2 separate regions of the Homo sapiens genome follow, and region 1 is linked to region 2. Evidence: fine-mapped expression QTL. Tissue or cell type: whole blood. Region 2 holds a variant in brackets; the other region holds the start of a gene. All regions are shown on one strand. Distances are between the middles of the regions.

Region 1 (8,100 bases), 150 kb after region 2:
CACCACCATGCCCAGCTAATTTTTAAATTTTTTTGTAGAGATCTGGATCTCTCTATGTTTGCCCATGCTGGTCTCAAACTCCTGGGTTCAGGGATTCCTCCCCACCTCCCCCAAGCCTCCCAAAGTCTTGGGATTACAGAGAGTGAGCCACAGGGCCGGCCCAGGAATCTATATATCATTTAACCTCCTCAACAATCTATGAGCTAGGTAGCATTATCCCCCATTTTTCAGAGGGAGAAACTGAGGCACAGACAGGTGAAGGTCCTGGCTGAGGGTCCCACCACTGGGGCCCCTCCATGCCCTGTCTCCACTTGGGGCTCAGGAGCCTGAGATCCTGCTGCACAGTTCTAGAGACCGAGGAGCAAGAATGGAACAATCCGGATGGAGACAGACCATCCGATCCCCGGGGGCATAGCCCTCCGAGCTGGCCTCGCCTCCCTACCCTACGAGGTTGACCAACGAAGAGCCAGAGACTGGGAGCGGTGGCTCAGACCTGTAATCTCAGCATTTTGCAGGCCAAGTCGGGCGTGAGGTCAGGAGTTTGAGACCAGTCTGGCCAACATGGTGAAACCCCATCTCTACTAAAAATACAAAAACTAGTGGGTGTGGTAGTGGGTCCTTGTGGTCCCAGCTACTCAGGAGAATCGCTTGAACCCAGGAGGTGGAGGCTGCAGGGAGGCGAGATCGTGCCACTGCACTCCAGCCTGGGCGATGGAGTGAGACTGTCTCAAAAGAAAGAAAAAGAAAAGCCAGAGCTTTTCCAGGCCGCCGCTAGGCGCACCCTTGCCCCACCTGGTCCTTCCCCACCTGGAGCCCCCTTGGGTTTTGGCCCCACATGTTCTCCCGCACCCCAATCCCTCAAGAGCCCCTCGCCCTCTGTCACTCTTCCCAGGTGCCCTCCCCTCTTGGGCTCCATCTCAGGGATCCCCACTCCATCACCCCCTACCCCCTCGGGGCTCCCGCCTCTTCGCCTCCATTCTCCCCTCCCCCAACCCCTTCGGGACTCCTACCTGTCTACCCCCCTCCCGGGGTTTCCCTGTTGGTTCAGGGCTGTGGGGGATTCCCCTTCCCCTTCTTGGGCTCCCCTCTCCCCACTTCAGTTCTCCCCTCCTCCTAGCCCCAGGCGGGATCCTCTCCCCTCCCCGCTTCTCCCTCTGGGACTTCCCCCTCCTTCTCTCTCTCCCTCCCCCGTCGGGGCTCCCCCGATCCCCGTGACTCCTAGGGAGCCGCTGGGGTTTTCCTCATGCGCCCACGTGAGGCTCCGTGGAAAGGTCGCGGCCTGCGGGCAGGACCACCCCACCCCCTCCCCACTCCCCCCTAGTTCCCAGGCTTGGGGGCTGCAGGGCAGAGGGGAACCGAGGTCGTCCCGGCGCCTGGCCAGGGCGGGCCCACTCTGCAGACCCGGGGCGGGAAGACTGAGGCCGGGCACGGAAGGGCTGGGCCACGCTCCCAGCCCGGGGCAGGGGGAGTCACCACCGCGCCTGCAACTTTGGGAGAAGTAGGAGGTGGCTGGCCAGGGCTCGCAGTTTCGGTTTACAGGCAAAACGCAGCACTGCGCCAAGCCCGGCTGGCCCGGAGGCCGACTTCCTGGGGTATTTTTCTGCTTGTTGATTTTAGTTTGCGGAAATAAAAAAAGTTTTTTTCTTTAGTGCAAAAGAGAGGCCTATCCTGGGATGGAGAAGGCTGTGGTGGGCTGGGGGGGCACTCCCTGGGGAAGCCTCCAAAAGCGCTCTTCCTTGCAAGCCCTGAGCTCACCTCGCTGTGTGGTACCAGGTGCCCCCTTGACCGATCCGGACCTTGGGCTGCGGTGGCCGCCTAGGCGGTCAGGGGCTGCAGCCAGCACCCCCTCCCGCTGAAATGCCTCCATATGTGCCCAGAGCTTGGGGTTGGCTCCTGCACAGCCAGTAACAGTGGTGGCACGGCGGCCAGGTTTCGTAATAAACCGGTCTCTTAATTGCTGCAGGGTAGGAGGAGAAGGAAAAAAAAAAAGAGGCATAGATTTGTTGGAGTCGGTGGCGGCGCCTGCTGCGGAGAGAAGGGGTACTGTTTCTGCACGGGAGCCTGGAGCTGCTAACAGGGGCTTAAGTAACACTTCCTGGTGAGCTGGCGGGGGTTGTGGGGGGTGAAGCGTGTCCCCGGGGAGGGGGCAGGGGTCCTAGTTGTTCTAGAAGCCGAAAACATACAAGCAACCAGAGGCTTTAGAAATTTATTACAAGGCCCTCATAGTAGAAATAAAAATATAGATATCTATGCTTCCCATCTCGCTCTCAGTGGTTCGAATAACAAGTGCAAGTAACAAAATAGATTGTCTCTATAATTCGCAAACTGGGAGTTCATGGGTACAGAGCAACTTCAGCCCCAGCTCCCAAGTCCCAAAGTGTGGTCTTGTCGAGGGTGCAGACAAGGACCAACCAAGTTCAACCAAGTCTCTCGTATGCAGACGCCAGCTCCAGTCTCAAGGAGGGTGGGGCTTGCAGTCAGTCTCACTCCACCCCCGAGTGGACAGTCTGGACCCTCCGTGATGGGGAAGGCGGCAGCGTGCCCCGCCACTCCGGCTTCTGCTCCATCCCAAGGCCTCAGCTTCGGGGGTCCTGTCTCCTGCTGGCCTGGGTCCCCCCTTCTCCATCGGATCGGCGGCCGCCAGCTCCTGGATCTCCGCCCTGGGGGCGGCCGCTCACTCCCCTTCTCCTCCTCCTCTTCCTCTTCAGTCTCCAACGACTCTGCCCCCGATGGTCCTCGTGGGTTGGGTTGTTTTGGGGGGGTTGTGCTGGGGGGGAGGGGGTTCAAATATTTATTGTATTTTTTGTTTGTGGCAGCAACTCAACAGATTCTGCTGCTGGGAAGGGCCTCAGCGTTCCTGAAGAGAGATGTAGGGGACCCACTGGTTGTTGCCCCGGCTTTCTTCGCAGTAGCTGGCCACCTCCACCAAGCCGTGGCTCTTCCAGGCGTCCGTGTGAGGGTTCTGTAGGAGGGAAAAGAAGGGGTTTAGTGGAGCCTCCCTCTCCCGGGGCCCCTGTGTGGGGAAAACAGTCAGGCTCAAAATAGCTTCCTGGGTGAGGAGGCCCCAGCCCGGCTGCCCACGGGACATGCCAAACGTGGCTGAGCGCTGAGCTGTGCAGGACCAGTCAGCCCGACTTTGTTGACAAACACCGGCCCAGGTGCCCGGGCGTGGCGGGGCAGGGCAGAGGCCCGACTCACCGTGACCAGGAGACAATGCAGGTCTCGGGCCTCGGTGGTGCCCTGGGTCTCGGCCGGCTCTCCCAGGAGCTGCGCCAGGCGCTGCATGCCCGACACCCGCACGATGTTGATGTCGTTGTCACAGCAGAAGGACTGGATGAGCGTGAAGTGGATTTGCAGGGCGATGTCATCCTCCTCCTCCTCGTCAATGGCCAAGAGGCAGAGGACCACGCTGTCTGGGTCCCTGAGGGGGCCAAAGGGTAGGGATGGGTCAGCCGGGGACAGGGGAGGGGCCACCGTGCAGGGGGAGTTTGCAAAAAAGGAGCGTGCAAGAGCAAAAGAGAAACTGCAAGGGTGCAGGGGATTGCCTCTGCAAGCTGGTGACGGTGGGGGGAGGGGAGGGCACACGGTTCAAAGTATGGGGTAGGGGGAGACAGGCCCACGGCGGGAGGGGTGTTTGCAGACGATACATCAGGATACGGCAGCCCCCGATCCACAAAACGGCAGAGAAGCTCTGCATCCACAGCGGGGGGCACTTGGGGAAGTCCCAGCTCCATGCAAGACAAGCGTGCGGAAAGCGTCCAGAGCGGAGGGGAGGTCCCGTCCCACCCGCGCCCAGCCCGGGAAGGGGGTCTGACTCACACATTCATCAACTTGGCCGACTCGTACACCCCCACTGTGAGGCGATCCTGGCGCTGAGCGGCCACCAAAAGCTCCTCCACCGCGGCGGTCACCGTCTGCATCCTGAGACCAGGAAAGAGGGATCAGTGACGGGCGGACCACCGGGTGCTACGTTCCGCTCCCGGCCCGGCCCAACCCGACCCATCCCGTCCCGGCTGACCTCAGGCGGCGGCAGCCCCGGCTACTTACTTCTGCGCCGCGTTGTCGCACGCCACGAGCTCTTCCAGCGTCATGTTGCAATTATAATCCACAGTGGATGCGGCTCCACGGCAGTCCCCAGGGAGAAATTGCAAAATCCGAGCCAGAGAGCCCAAAACCTTCCCACAGAGCTAGAGCGCTCGTCCAAGACCTTCGGGAAGCAGCGAAATCCTTCCAGAAAAGGCGGAAAAATATATTGCAAAGTCCTTGGCGAGGATAATCCAGGAAGTTGCGGAAACCAACGGTAGTCCGACGCTTCGGCGATCTGAGCTGGGAGCCTCCGGCACCGACTTTTATAGACTTGAACATTGGGCGTGGCCTCAGTGGAGTCATTCGCCCCTCCTATTGGTGGAAAGACAAGGGCGAGTGCAGCTAGCTCTGCGGTTGGCCGACGGAGGGGAGGGGGAGGAGCGGCGTGCGGGGGCGCCCCACGTGGGGGCGAGAACCGGGAGGAGGGCGCGCGGGGGCCGGGTAGGTGACCGCGAATGCCAGAAAAGAAAAAAAAGCAGAAGTTTTTTTCTCCTGATTTCCCGGCAGCCGAGCCGCGGTTCGGGGCGCGCGCGGGATTTCCAGCGCGCGAGGCGGCCCGGACTTTCGGGGGGGCCTGGAATCCCCTCCCGATCCGCGGAGAGTCCCGGACCGCGCCTTTCCCAAGTTCTGCTGGGGGTGGAGGGGCTGCACCGGGAAGGGGCCCCGTTTGCAGCGTGATCTCGCCCAGGTGGTGGTGAGGGCCGGAGTCTCTCCTGGCTGCGACGACCCCAGCCCCTGGGTGATTTCGCTTCTCCCGGCCTCTCTGTTCCCGTCTGAGTAATGGGTCTGCAGCGCCGGCCTCGCTGGTTTGCAGAGCATGGCATAAAATACGGCTGACAGTAAGAGCCCAATACACATCAGCTGTCACCTGGTGGTCGCGGGAGGCCTCCTCGAGGGCCCCGAAAGTGGGAGGTTGCAAAGCCCGGGGCGCTCTGGAGAAGAAAGTGGGCGCCTCCTCGCCGACCCCGCGAGTATCAGGGTGGGGTGCGCGTGGGAGGTGCAGGTGGCGCGGCCCCGCCCCCGCCGGCTGCCTGGCGTTCCAGCCTTTGCCCGTGCGGAGGCCTCCAGGCCCTGGAGAAAGCCATTGTTGAGGGGAATGGTGCAGGCTCCGGCTGCACGCCGCCACCCAGGGCCCACGTGCAAGGATGACGGCTACTTTTATTTCTCACTCCGGGGTGGGCGCTGACCTGCATTGAGTGCGTGGTGCGGACCTGGTACCCCCCACCCCTCCGGATTCATGGATGATTTAATCCAAGACCTGGGAAGCAGGGGGGATGCTTATGTGCATTATGCAAAAGGGGAAACTGAGGCTTGGTGAGGCCATAGGCTAGTTCGTGTTGGAGCCACGCGTGTGCGCCAGGCACGGCCGCCTGCAGGACTCCGCCGCCCCGGGAAGGCTGTTCAGGAGCGAGGCTGGCAGGCCCCGCATGACAACGTCTCCCACGGTCGACTGGGGGCTCCCGGGTGACTCACATCTGAGTCCCCTCCCCCGCCAGCCTGGGGTCTGGCCTCCGCCCGGCGGCTCACTTTCCCCAGTTGCCCGGCTCCCCGGCCCGCGGGTCCGGCTGACGCATCCCACCTCCTCCGCGCCGCCCACCGCTGGGGCACGAAATGTCCCGGGGCTGCGAGGCGCGGTGGCGCCATCTGGTGGCCGCGCCGAGTTTCTGCGCCCTCAGCGCCGGAAGAGAGGGACGGACGGGCGGGGCACTGGGCTGGAGGCGGGGGATAAGGGGACCGTGGCGGTTGCAACGTTTTATGTAACTTTATGCAATGTTTTACGCATGCAACATACATATTTATATTTTATAATTTCAATTTAAAAGTTAAATCGGCCGGGCGCGGTGGCTTACGCCTGTAATCCCAGCACTTTGGGAGTCCGAGGCGGGCGGATCAACTGAGGTCAGGAGTTCGAGACCAACCTGACCAACATGGCCAACATGAGCTGAAGATAAGGAAGATCAGGGAGGTGGGTGGGATAAGTGCAAAGTCAGATTCTGTCTTTATTTACAATTTTGATATTTTGTTCCTCATGGATACTTGGGCATTGATTTTGATTTTTAAAAAGTATTGCAGGCTGGGTAATCCCAGCACATTAGGAGGCTGAGGCGGGCAGATCGTGAGGTCAGTTCGAGACCAGCCTGACCAACATGGTGAAACCCTGTCTCTACTAAAAACACAAAAATTAGCTGGGCGTGGTGGCACGCGCCTGTAATCCCAGCTTACTCAGGAGGCTGAGGCAGGAGTATCACTTGAACCCAGGAGGTGGAGGTTGCAGTGAGCCGAGATCATGCCACTGCACATGGCATGGTGACAGAGAGAGACTCCATCCTCCCCAAAACAAACAAACAAACAAACAAACAAACAAAAAGGCCGGGCACGGTAGCTCACTCCTGTAATCCCAGCACTTGGGGAGTCTGAGGCAGGAGGATCACCTGAGGCTGGGAATTCAAGACCAGCCTGACCAACCTGGAGAAACCCCATCTCTACTAAAAATACAAAATCAGTCGGGCGTGGTGGCACATGCCTGTAATCCCAGCTACTCTGGGGGCTGAGGCAGGAGAATTGCTTGAACTTGGGAGGCAGAGGTTGCAGTAAGCCGAGATTGCAGTGAGCCGAGATCGTGCCACTGCACTCCAGCCTGAGTGACAGAGTGAGACTCAGTCTTTAAAAAAAAAAAAAAGAAAGAAAGAATGGGGTGTGTTGTGTGCACCCAGCTACTCCGGAGGCTGAGACAGGAGGATCACTTGAGCCCAGGGGTTCCTGGCTGCAGTGAGCCGGGATTGCACAGTTGCATTCCAGCCTGGGCAACAGAGTGAGACCCCGTCTCAAATAAATAAATAAAATAAGGGCTGGGCACGGTGGCTCATGCCTGTAATCCCAGCACTTTGGGAGGCTGAGGCAGGTGGATCATCTGGGGTCAGGAGTTCAAAACCAACCTGGCCAACATGGTGAAACCCCGTCTCTACAAAAAATACAAAAATTACCTGGGCATGGTGGCACATGCCTATAATCCCAGCTACTCGGGAGGCTGAGGCAGGAGAATCGCTTGAACCCGGGAGGTGGAGGTTGCAGTGAGCCGAGATTGCACCACTGCATTCCAGCCTGGGAGACAGAGCGAGACACTGTGTCAAAAATAAAGCAAATAAAATAAATAAAATAAGGCGAGCAAAGCAGGGCCTCAGAGAATATGTGTCCAAGTCCTTCTTCCGTGTGTCCCCCGTGCCAGCCATAACAACCTCCTCTGCGAGAGGCCCAGCCTTTGTCAGCTGTTTCCTCCGCCTGGGATGCTGTCTTCCTCTGGTCTTCAGCAGGAAAACCCTACTCCTCTGTCAACACTGACTTGGCCTTGTTTTCTCCCAGACTGACTGCCTGGACCCCCATGGTCCTCCACCCTCCAGGCTTCTCTTTCTAGACCCCAAGCCCACCTGTGCCTCCTTTTTCCAGCCCTGGCTCCAGGCATCTTAGAATATCTGGAGTATCTTGGAATATCTTCAAGAGACTCTGAGCTCTGTGCCTTTGAGCTCAGAAAATGAGCTCCAGCCGGGCCAGGCGTGGTGGCTCATGCCTGTAATCCCAGCATGTTGGGAGGCCGAGGCGGGTGGATCACCCGAGGTCAGGAGTTCAAGACCAGCCTGGCCAGCATGGTGAAACTCCATCTCTACTAAAAATATAAAAATTAGCCAGGCATGGTGGCGCATGCCTGTAGTCCCAGCTACTCAGGAGGCTGAGGCAGGAGAATCGCTTGAACTCGGGAGGTGGAGGTTGCAATGAGCCGAGATCGTGCCACTGCACTCCAGCCTGGACAACAAGAGTGAGACTCTTTCTCAAAAAAAAAAAAAAAAAGAAAATGAGCTCCAGCCTCAGTTTCTTTCTCTGTAAGATGGGAACAGTCACACAAAGGCTTCATCACAGGCATTGAAGGAGGAAATTCCCAGAATCAGGTAAGCACTCAGGAAATGTGTGCTATTATCTTTGGGCTGGGCGCCAGAACTCACCTCTGTAATCCCAGCACTT
Region 2 (8,100 bases):
GAGAAGGCCCGGTGCAGAAGAACCTGCCTCCCGGGTGAGTTGAGAGCAGGCTTCTGTCCTCTTCTGGACAGAATTACTACAGCTCCCACTCAAGCCCCGGTAAACAGACACCCGTTTTCAAGCCCACCGATGTCCTCTCAATGAATCCCCGTTTCAGAGCTGTTATTGCGACCACCTGACTCTACTGATTGAGGCTCCATACCCAGAGAGGCTCACATCCACGACCACCGAGCCCGGGGATCTGAGTACCCCAGCCCAGTGTGCAGACCACAGCCACCTCTCGTGTGTGTGTGTGTGTGTGTGTGTGTGTGTGTGTGTGCGCGCGCGCGCGCGCGCCTGTTGCTAAGCAACCGCTTGAACAGTCAGCCTCCCACAGAACGAGGGATGAGGCACCAACTTGGTCATCGGCAGATTCATCGAGCCTTGGCCGCCTTTGACTCAAAATACACACGGCGGTGACAGTCGCATATGATGAGATGCTGGGGGCAGGGGACATGGGGGAGCCGAGTGGAGGCCAGAGAGGATGGCTCTGCCAATCTGTGGCTTGACCTTGACCCTCTCTGACCCTCTACAGCAGGGGTCAGAGTCCATTGCCCAGGACAGCAATGATGAGGCCCGTTGGATGCTAATTTTCCTCCCATCCGCTTCATCGTTTTAGTGAACCAGCACCCACCTGCAGGGCCCCTGCCAGGCTAACACCCTCGGATCTCTGCGCAGACACTCCCGGTGCCGCCTGGGGATGCGTGTCATAGATGGTTAAGGTGCAGCCTGGGGAGGCCCAAGGTGGGGTCTGTTGAGAAGTTAGGGGCCTGGTAGAGGGGCCCCCTGTCCCACCAGCAGGGTTCAAGGGGCTGAGGGCTCCTGAGCAGACATGGGCCAGGCAGAGGCCCAGGCGGGTGCCCCAGTGCAGAGCCCACTGTGGCTGGATGAGCCTCGTAATGACTTCATGTTAGAGCCTCAGCTTTACTTATTTATTATTTTTATCGGACATGGATCTGAATTATTATTCTTATATTCTTGTTATTATTATTATTTTAGAGTCAGAGTCTCACTCTGTTGCCCAGGTGCGAGTGCAGTGGTGCGATCATAGCTCAGTGTAACTAAGGGGTGCTCCTGGCAGGGAGTGGGTGGAGGCCAGGGACTCTGCTCAGCACCCTGCAGTGCCAGGGCAGCCTCACCCCAGAGATGGATCCAGTCCCGATGTCCACAGTGCTGACGGTGAGAGACTTCCCTGTAGAGTAGAAAGTCTCTGTTCGTCAGCTGTTTTTACAATTCCCAGTCTGTTTTCTGTGTGCGTGTGTGTGTGTGTGTGTGTGTGTGTGTGTGTGTGTGAGTTTTGTTTATAGCAGGTTGGGTTTTTTTGTTTTTTTTTTTTTTGAGATGGAGTTTCACTCTTGTCTCCCAGGCTAGAATGCAATAGCATAATCTCGGCTCACTGCAACCTCCACCTCCCGGGTTCAAGCAATTCTCCTGCCTCAGCCTCCCAAGTAGCTGGGATTACAGGTGCCTGACACCACGCCTGGCTAATTTTTGTATTTTTAGTAGAGACGGGTTTCACCATGTTGGTCAGGCTGGTCTCGAACTCCTGACCTCAAGTGATCCACCTGCCTCTGCCTCCCAAAGTGCTGGGATTACAGGCATGATCCCACACAGCGCCAGGCCAGGAGTCTTACCTTTCTAGGAGGCAGAGTTTATCTGTTCTTTTGGGGCTCCTTTCTCTAGAGAATGGGGGAGAGGGCAGCACCAGGGTGATGATGTCCCCGCAGAACAGGCCGTCACGGGATTAGCCTAGTCGATGCTAGTTGTCCTTATTGGAGATCTTGGGGAGACGCCCTGAAAATGCTGTAGTCTGCCTTGGCTGGTTCAACGTCCTTTCACCCCTTTTCTCTCTTCCTCTTTCAGAAATGGCACTTCTAGGGTCAGTCGGCTTCATTTTAGAAGTTAGCAAAAGAAGGAAAAAACTGCTAAAGCCGGGGTCGAAAACTGTGGCCCCCAGGCCAAGTCCCCCATCTAGTTCCTGTTTTTATAAATAAAGTTTTATTGGCATACAGCCACAGACATGCTGTGCCCCCACCCCAGGCCCAGTCTGGCCCTCCACTTCCTGTTTTTATAAATGAAGTTTTATTGGCACACAGCCACAGACAAACTGCAGCTCCCTGGGCCAAGTTCCCCCCTCCACTCCCTGTTTGTATAAATAAAGTTTTATTGGCACACAGCCACAGACATACTGCAGGTCCCTGGGCCAAGTTCTCTGTTCCACTTCCTGTTTTTATGAATAAAGTTTTATTGGCACACGGCCACAGACATTCATTTACCTGTCATCAGTGACTGCTTTCATACTACAAGGACAGAGCTCAGTGGCCTTTTGCAGAAAAGGTTTGCTGACCCTCAGCCTAGAGGCCTTGAGTTATCTGATTTCATCTCATAACCACTCGTGAGGAAAGAATGATCGTCACTGGACAGATAAGGATGCTGAGACCTAGCGAGGTTAAGTGGCTTCATGAGGTGACATAACCAGCAGTTTAGGGCTTGGGCTCCCAACTCTGCCACCTACTGGCTCTGTGACCCTGGGCCATCTCTGTGCTTTTCTGAACCTCAATGCCCTCGTCTGTGAAAGGGGGGAGAATAGGCAGTGCCTGCCTCTCAAGGGGTTAATGCATGTCAAGCTGTCTAATACTAAATGCACCATTCTTCCTCTGGTCTTCATGCCTGCTATGCCTCCTCAGCCCCACACAGTGCTGTTGAGACAATCAGATAATGTCATAGTCATTAGACCTTTTTGATGATATACTCAGACATACTCAGGAGGAAACTGCTGAGTTGCTTGGCTGATTGTGGAGGGACATGATGTCCAAACCCTTGTGTATGAATAAGTTTGAAAGCTGACCATAAAATCCCAGAATGCTCTAGTCTGCAGCACATAAAGAGTGTATTAGCTAGCTATGGCTGCGTAACAACTACCATGAATGCAGTAGCTTAGAGTGACACCCATTTATTATCTCATGGTTCCATAGGTCAGAAGTTTGGATGTAGTGTGGCTGGGTAAGACCCTGCACAGAGGACCCAGCCACACTATGTCCAAACTTCTGACCTCGGAGATGTGAGCCAGGGCTGCATTCTCATCCGAAGGTTTGTGTGGTGACGGATCCCCTTCCAAGCTCATTCCAGGCTCATTCAGAATTCAGTTCTTTGTGGTTGATAGACTGTTTCTGTTGCGTTGTTAGCTGTCAGGAGGGGGCAACTCTCAGCTCTTTGAGGCCACTCTCAGGCCACTTGGCCTTCTCCATAGGCCCCTCATGCTTCCAGGCTCTCATTTCAGGAAAGGCCCAATCCCTTTTAAAGGGTCACCTGATTAGACCAGGCCCACCTAGGATAATCGCCCTTTCAGTGAACTCAAGGTCAACTGATTTAGGACCTTATTTACCTCTTCAAAATCCCTTCTTTCCTGAAAAGCAACCTAATCAGGGGAGTGATATCTCATCATGTCCACGGGCCCTGCCCACACTCAAGGGGAGGGGGTTCTACAAGATATGTTCTCCAGGGAGATCTTAGACTCCTCTTGGTGGCAAAGGGAAGGGGGGGCCTGCGTTCGGCCTCAGCCAGGACCGAATCAGCAGGACCTTCACTCCCTTTTTCTGGCGTCCATCCCTTCCTCTTGCAGGAGTACTGCCAGGTCTTTGGGGAGAGGGTGGGGGTTATTGGGAGAAAGGAGGCATTTGGAAAGTAGGTGGCAGGCTGTGTCCCAGTTACACCTAAATGTGTCTCCACTTATTAAAAAAAAAAAACAACCTTTATTTT[G/A]AAATCATTACAGATTCAGAGGAAGTTGCAAAAATCACACAGAGCAAAAAACATCACATGTATCTTCACAGTTTCCCCCAGTGGTGACATCTTACGTAACCATAGTACAAAACCAGGAAATGGACCCTGGCACCATGTATGTGCAAAGCTCTGTGCCCTTTCGCACACATGCAGACTCGGCTTCACCTTATTTATGGGTGTGCAGGAACATTAAGTGTCCATAAATGTGGACGGAGCTCCTCTTACTCGTGGGCATGGGGTCAGAGGGAGGCGGGAGTACAACCAAACAAAACCATCTAGACTTTGACCGTTGATGTGGGTGCCAGGTTCCAATCACCGTGTGCCCCCACACTGCGTTCAGGGCTACGCTCTTCTGTCTTCTCCCACTAGTCTGTGAGTCTGTGAGGTCTTGTCCACTACCTCTTTAGGCAGCCAGCCCTTCTGGTGGGCTTTGTCGTGGGGAGGGGGTGGCACTAGGTGTGTTCTGGGGCTCCTAGCACTAGAAGACTTGTTTCAAATCCAGAAGCACCTCCTATTCGTGTGGGCGCCCAGGCAACTTACCTGACCCGTCTGTGACTCTGTGTCCTTGGGGACCTCCTATTCTAAACACAAGAGCGTGGCCTGCTGTCACCGTCACCATCCTGGCATCTGCAGAAGAGCCACCAAGCGCTGCCTCCTGAGAATTTCTGGAAGGAGGAGATGACTGGTAGAGTGGAAAGTTATTGAAAGGGACATTTGGAGTTCTTTCCAAGGGACATAACCCATCTCCCAATATCCCCTATCCATTTGCTCAACCTTCAGAGAGACCTACTAAGATATCCAGTTGTTCACCTCAAGTCTTCAACTTTCCCCAAAGTTCTTTGCTGTTTTCTCTGTGCCTTGCACAGAGCCTGATGCATAGTACGTGCTCCTTGGGGGCCACTTTGTGTGTGTTTCCTACTAATGGCACCTACAGCAGCAATGGCCACCATGTCTTTTACAGCTACAGTCCTAGGCAGAATTCCAAGATGGCGCCCAAGACCCCCACCGCCTGGTGCCCACATCTTATCTAATCCCCTGCACTTGAGGATGGGCTGGACCTGCGAATACGATGGGGTGTCACTCCAGTGGTTAGGTTAATGCAGTTAGGTCGTGTGTTCGGTAAAGGGATTTTGCAGATGCGACGAAGATTCCTAGTCAGTTGACCTGAGCTCATCAAAAAGGAGACATCCTGGGTGGGCCTGACCTCATCAGGTGAGCCCATAAAAGAGACCAGAAGCACATCCCGAGGTGTCAAATTCAGAGAGACAGAAGGGAGAATGGTGGGTGCTAGGGGCTGGGGGAGGGAAGAGGGGAGCTGTTGTTCAGTGGATACAGTGTCTCAGTTTTACAAGATGGAAGGTTCTGGAGAGCCATTGCACAGCAGTGTGAGTATACTTAACATCACTGAACCGTACACATAAACGTGGTTAAGATGATCCGTCTTATGTTATATATATATATACACACACACACACACACCACAGTTGAAAGAAAGAGAGAAAGGGAAGGGGTTTCTTGCCTTAAAGAAAGCAAACAGCTATGTCGTGAGCTGCCTGTGGAGGGTCCATGTGGCAGACACCTGAGAGTAGCCTCTAGGGGCTCAGAGCACTCACATCCAACAGCCAGTAGGTAAACAGGGACCTCATTCCTAGAGCTGCAAGGAAATGAATTCTGCCGATAACCAAACTAGCTCAGAAGAGGACCCCAAATTCCAGATGACAACTCGGCCCAGCCCATACCTTGATTTTAGGCTTATAAGACTCTGAGCGGGGGACCCAGTTAAGCCAGACTCTTGACACACAGAAGTTGTGAGATGGCAAATGGTGTCTTTGTTGCCGCTGTTGTTACTCAGCAGTAGCTGACTCATACACTTGCCGTGTTGTTTGCCATGTTGAGATTGAGATAATGATCTCCACTTCACATAGGAGAAAACAGTAGCTGAGAGGGGCTGACGTGCCCAGGGTCACATGGCAACTGTGTTGTGATCATCACATTAACTGTGCCTGTCACCTGGGCCGGACCGTCACCTCCTTCATTAAGATCAGGGATCTGGTCCAAGTCTTCACCAGATGTTTACTGAGTGAGTGAAAGAAACAAAGAATGAAGGTGCTGGGACCGATCCTCACCTGACCTCCTGCACACAGGTGAGTCTGTGTCTGCGACCAGGACCAGTGACACCATAGGACACTGAGTGAAATCTCGAGAACATAACTGTGAGGCTCAGAAGGAGTAGTCAGCACATGCAACTCCCCGGGCTGAGTCAGCTGCCGGTGTTGAGGTCGGAGCTGATCAGCCTCCTGGAATGTGACATGCTGTACCCTGACTAATATTCCGGCTGAATCAGAGCTTTGCTCGTAATGAGAGGCAAGTCTCGAGCCAGTCACCCTCTGGCCCATGTGAGACTGGGAATTCAGAATCAGCCGGGAGTGACAGAAAGCCAGGTCTGGCTGGCACGCCTGGGTGGGTGTTTACAGCACGCGGGCTGCCAGCTGTGACCAGCTCTGAAGGGAGCCAGGGCCAGAGGATGCAGGTGCAGAGGACAGGCGCCCGGAGGAAGTGGGAGGAGAGGCGGCCACAGGGCTGGGGCCCCACTCTGGGTGCCCCTGGAGCCATGCAGGGGGTGGGTTCACCCCCTTACCGCCATTTAACATGTGAGGTGGATCGTTCTCTGGGGTGGGTCATCCTGGGCACTGCAGGGTGCTGACAGTGTCCCTGGCCTCCACCAACTCCATGCCAGGAGCACCCCCAGTCATGACAACCACAAATATCCCCAGACATCACCCAGCGTCCCCTGGGACAGAAACACCTTGGTTGAGACCCTCTGGGATAGAAGATTCCACAGACCCCAAGAGATTCTGCATCCCATGATCCTCTGCCCTGCGGAGGTCCCAGGAGGCTGCACACATTGAAATCCACACCTGAGTGGGAAGAGAGAGAGGAGATGAGTCCCAGGAGCTGGGGCTCCCGGGTTTATGCCGTCTGCTCCATCTGGAGTTTATTCCAGTGTCTGGTGTGAGTAGGGAGGACACTCAGTTTATTCCCAAATAATTAAAGCAGGTCTCTCCCCCTGGGCACTGTGGACACTGACACTGGACTGTTCTCTGGGGTGAGGCCGTCCTGGGCACTGCAGGGTGCTGAGCAGCATCCCTGGCCTCCACCCACTCCATGCCAGGAGCATGGACCGATGTGAGGGAATATTAGTCAGGGAAGGTCCCACTTCCCTCCGTCATGACAATTACAGATGTCCCCCGACACCGCCCAGTGTCCCCTGAGGGGACAGAATTACCCCAGTTGAGACCCTGATTGAGTGAACCGATGAAGACAACACCGCCCAAGAGTGAAAGCAGGTGCCCACACCAGGAGCTTTGTTCGGGAATTCAGGGAGGGCTTCCTGGAGGAAGTGACATGAGTTGAGTGTTGCTAGTGCCCTGAAGGTGACAGGTGGGGTGGGGGATACAGGTGCAGAGATGGTTCCAGGACCTTGAAAAGGTGAGAGGGAGGGAGTGAGGAGGCCGCACGGCAGAGGCTGCATTTTATCCCGAGGGCAGGAGGGAGCCATAGCGGGTTCCGGCTCCACCCATGACAACAATCAATTGGTTTGGGTCCAGCCTCCCTGTGTGACAGATTAGGAAACTGAGGCACAGAGGGGGTGAGAGATGCCCCAGCCTCCTGTGGGTGGCAGAGATCCCGGTGGGTTTCCACGGTGCCGCTGGTCAGGCTGGTTTGGGGCAGGGGGCCGGCTTCAGGCCTGGGGCGGGAGCAGCATCAGCTTCACGTTCCCGCTGGAGACACGGGGTCAGGTGGGCACCCGCGGTCACTCTCTGCTTCTGTTTGGTAAAATGGGGGGTGATCACCACCCCTGCAGTCCAGGGTTGCTGCAGGGAGTAAATGAAATAATCAGGCCGGGCGCCATGGCTCACGCCTGTCATCCCAGCACTTTGGGAGGCCGAGGCGGGTGGATCACCTGAGGTCAGGAGTTCGAGACCAGCCTGGCCAACATAGTGAAACCCCATCTCTACTAAAAATACAAAAATTAGCCAGGCGTGGTGGTGGGCGCCTGTAATCCTAGCTACTTGGGAGGCTGAGGCAGGAGAATCGCTTGAACCCGGGAGGCGGAGTTGCGGTGAGCATCAGTGAGCAGTCCAGCCTGGGCGACAGAGTGAGACTCCGCCTCAAAAACAAAACAAAAACAAAAACAAACAAAAAACCCCAAAACCAAAATAATCAGCTCTGAAGTCCTTGTCTTGTGCCCAGCACGGTGAGGGCGCTACCTGCTCACCC

Evidence for each region. PIP is the estimated chance that this variant, and not a neighbour inherited with it, causes the effect.
Region 1: it holds the start of GADD45B, and the variant in region 2 is fine-mapped to the expression of GADD45B in whole blood (TOPMed, PIP above 0.99).

The regions. Positions count from the first base shown.
Region 1 is chr19:2,472,350-2,480,449 of GRCh38, reverse strand. It overlaps GADD45B (growth arrest and DNA damage inducible beta), which reads right to left and starts at 4,323. Exons shown (of 4, transcript NM_015675.4): 1 at 4,048-4,323; 2 at 3,820-3,921; 3 at 3,199-3,421; 4 at 2,193-2,962. The coding sequence starts at 4,091. The coding sequence ends at 2,849. RefSeq lists enhancers at 8-507, 593-652, 508-1,009, 1,573-1,682, 2,073-2,122 and 8 more and silencers at 923-1,502, 5,063-5,172, 5,543-5,682.
Region 2 is chr19:2,625,707-2,633,806 of GRCh38, reverse strand. All of the region lies in intron 2 of GNG7 (G protein subunit gamma 7), which reads left to right. MIR7850 (microRNA 7850) reads right to left here and starts at 3,092; the gene lies at 3,014-3,092. RefSeq lists an enhancer at 5,627-6,826. The variant G/A (reference allele first, on the strand shown) is at 3,799.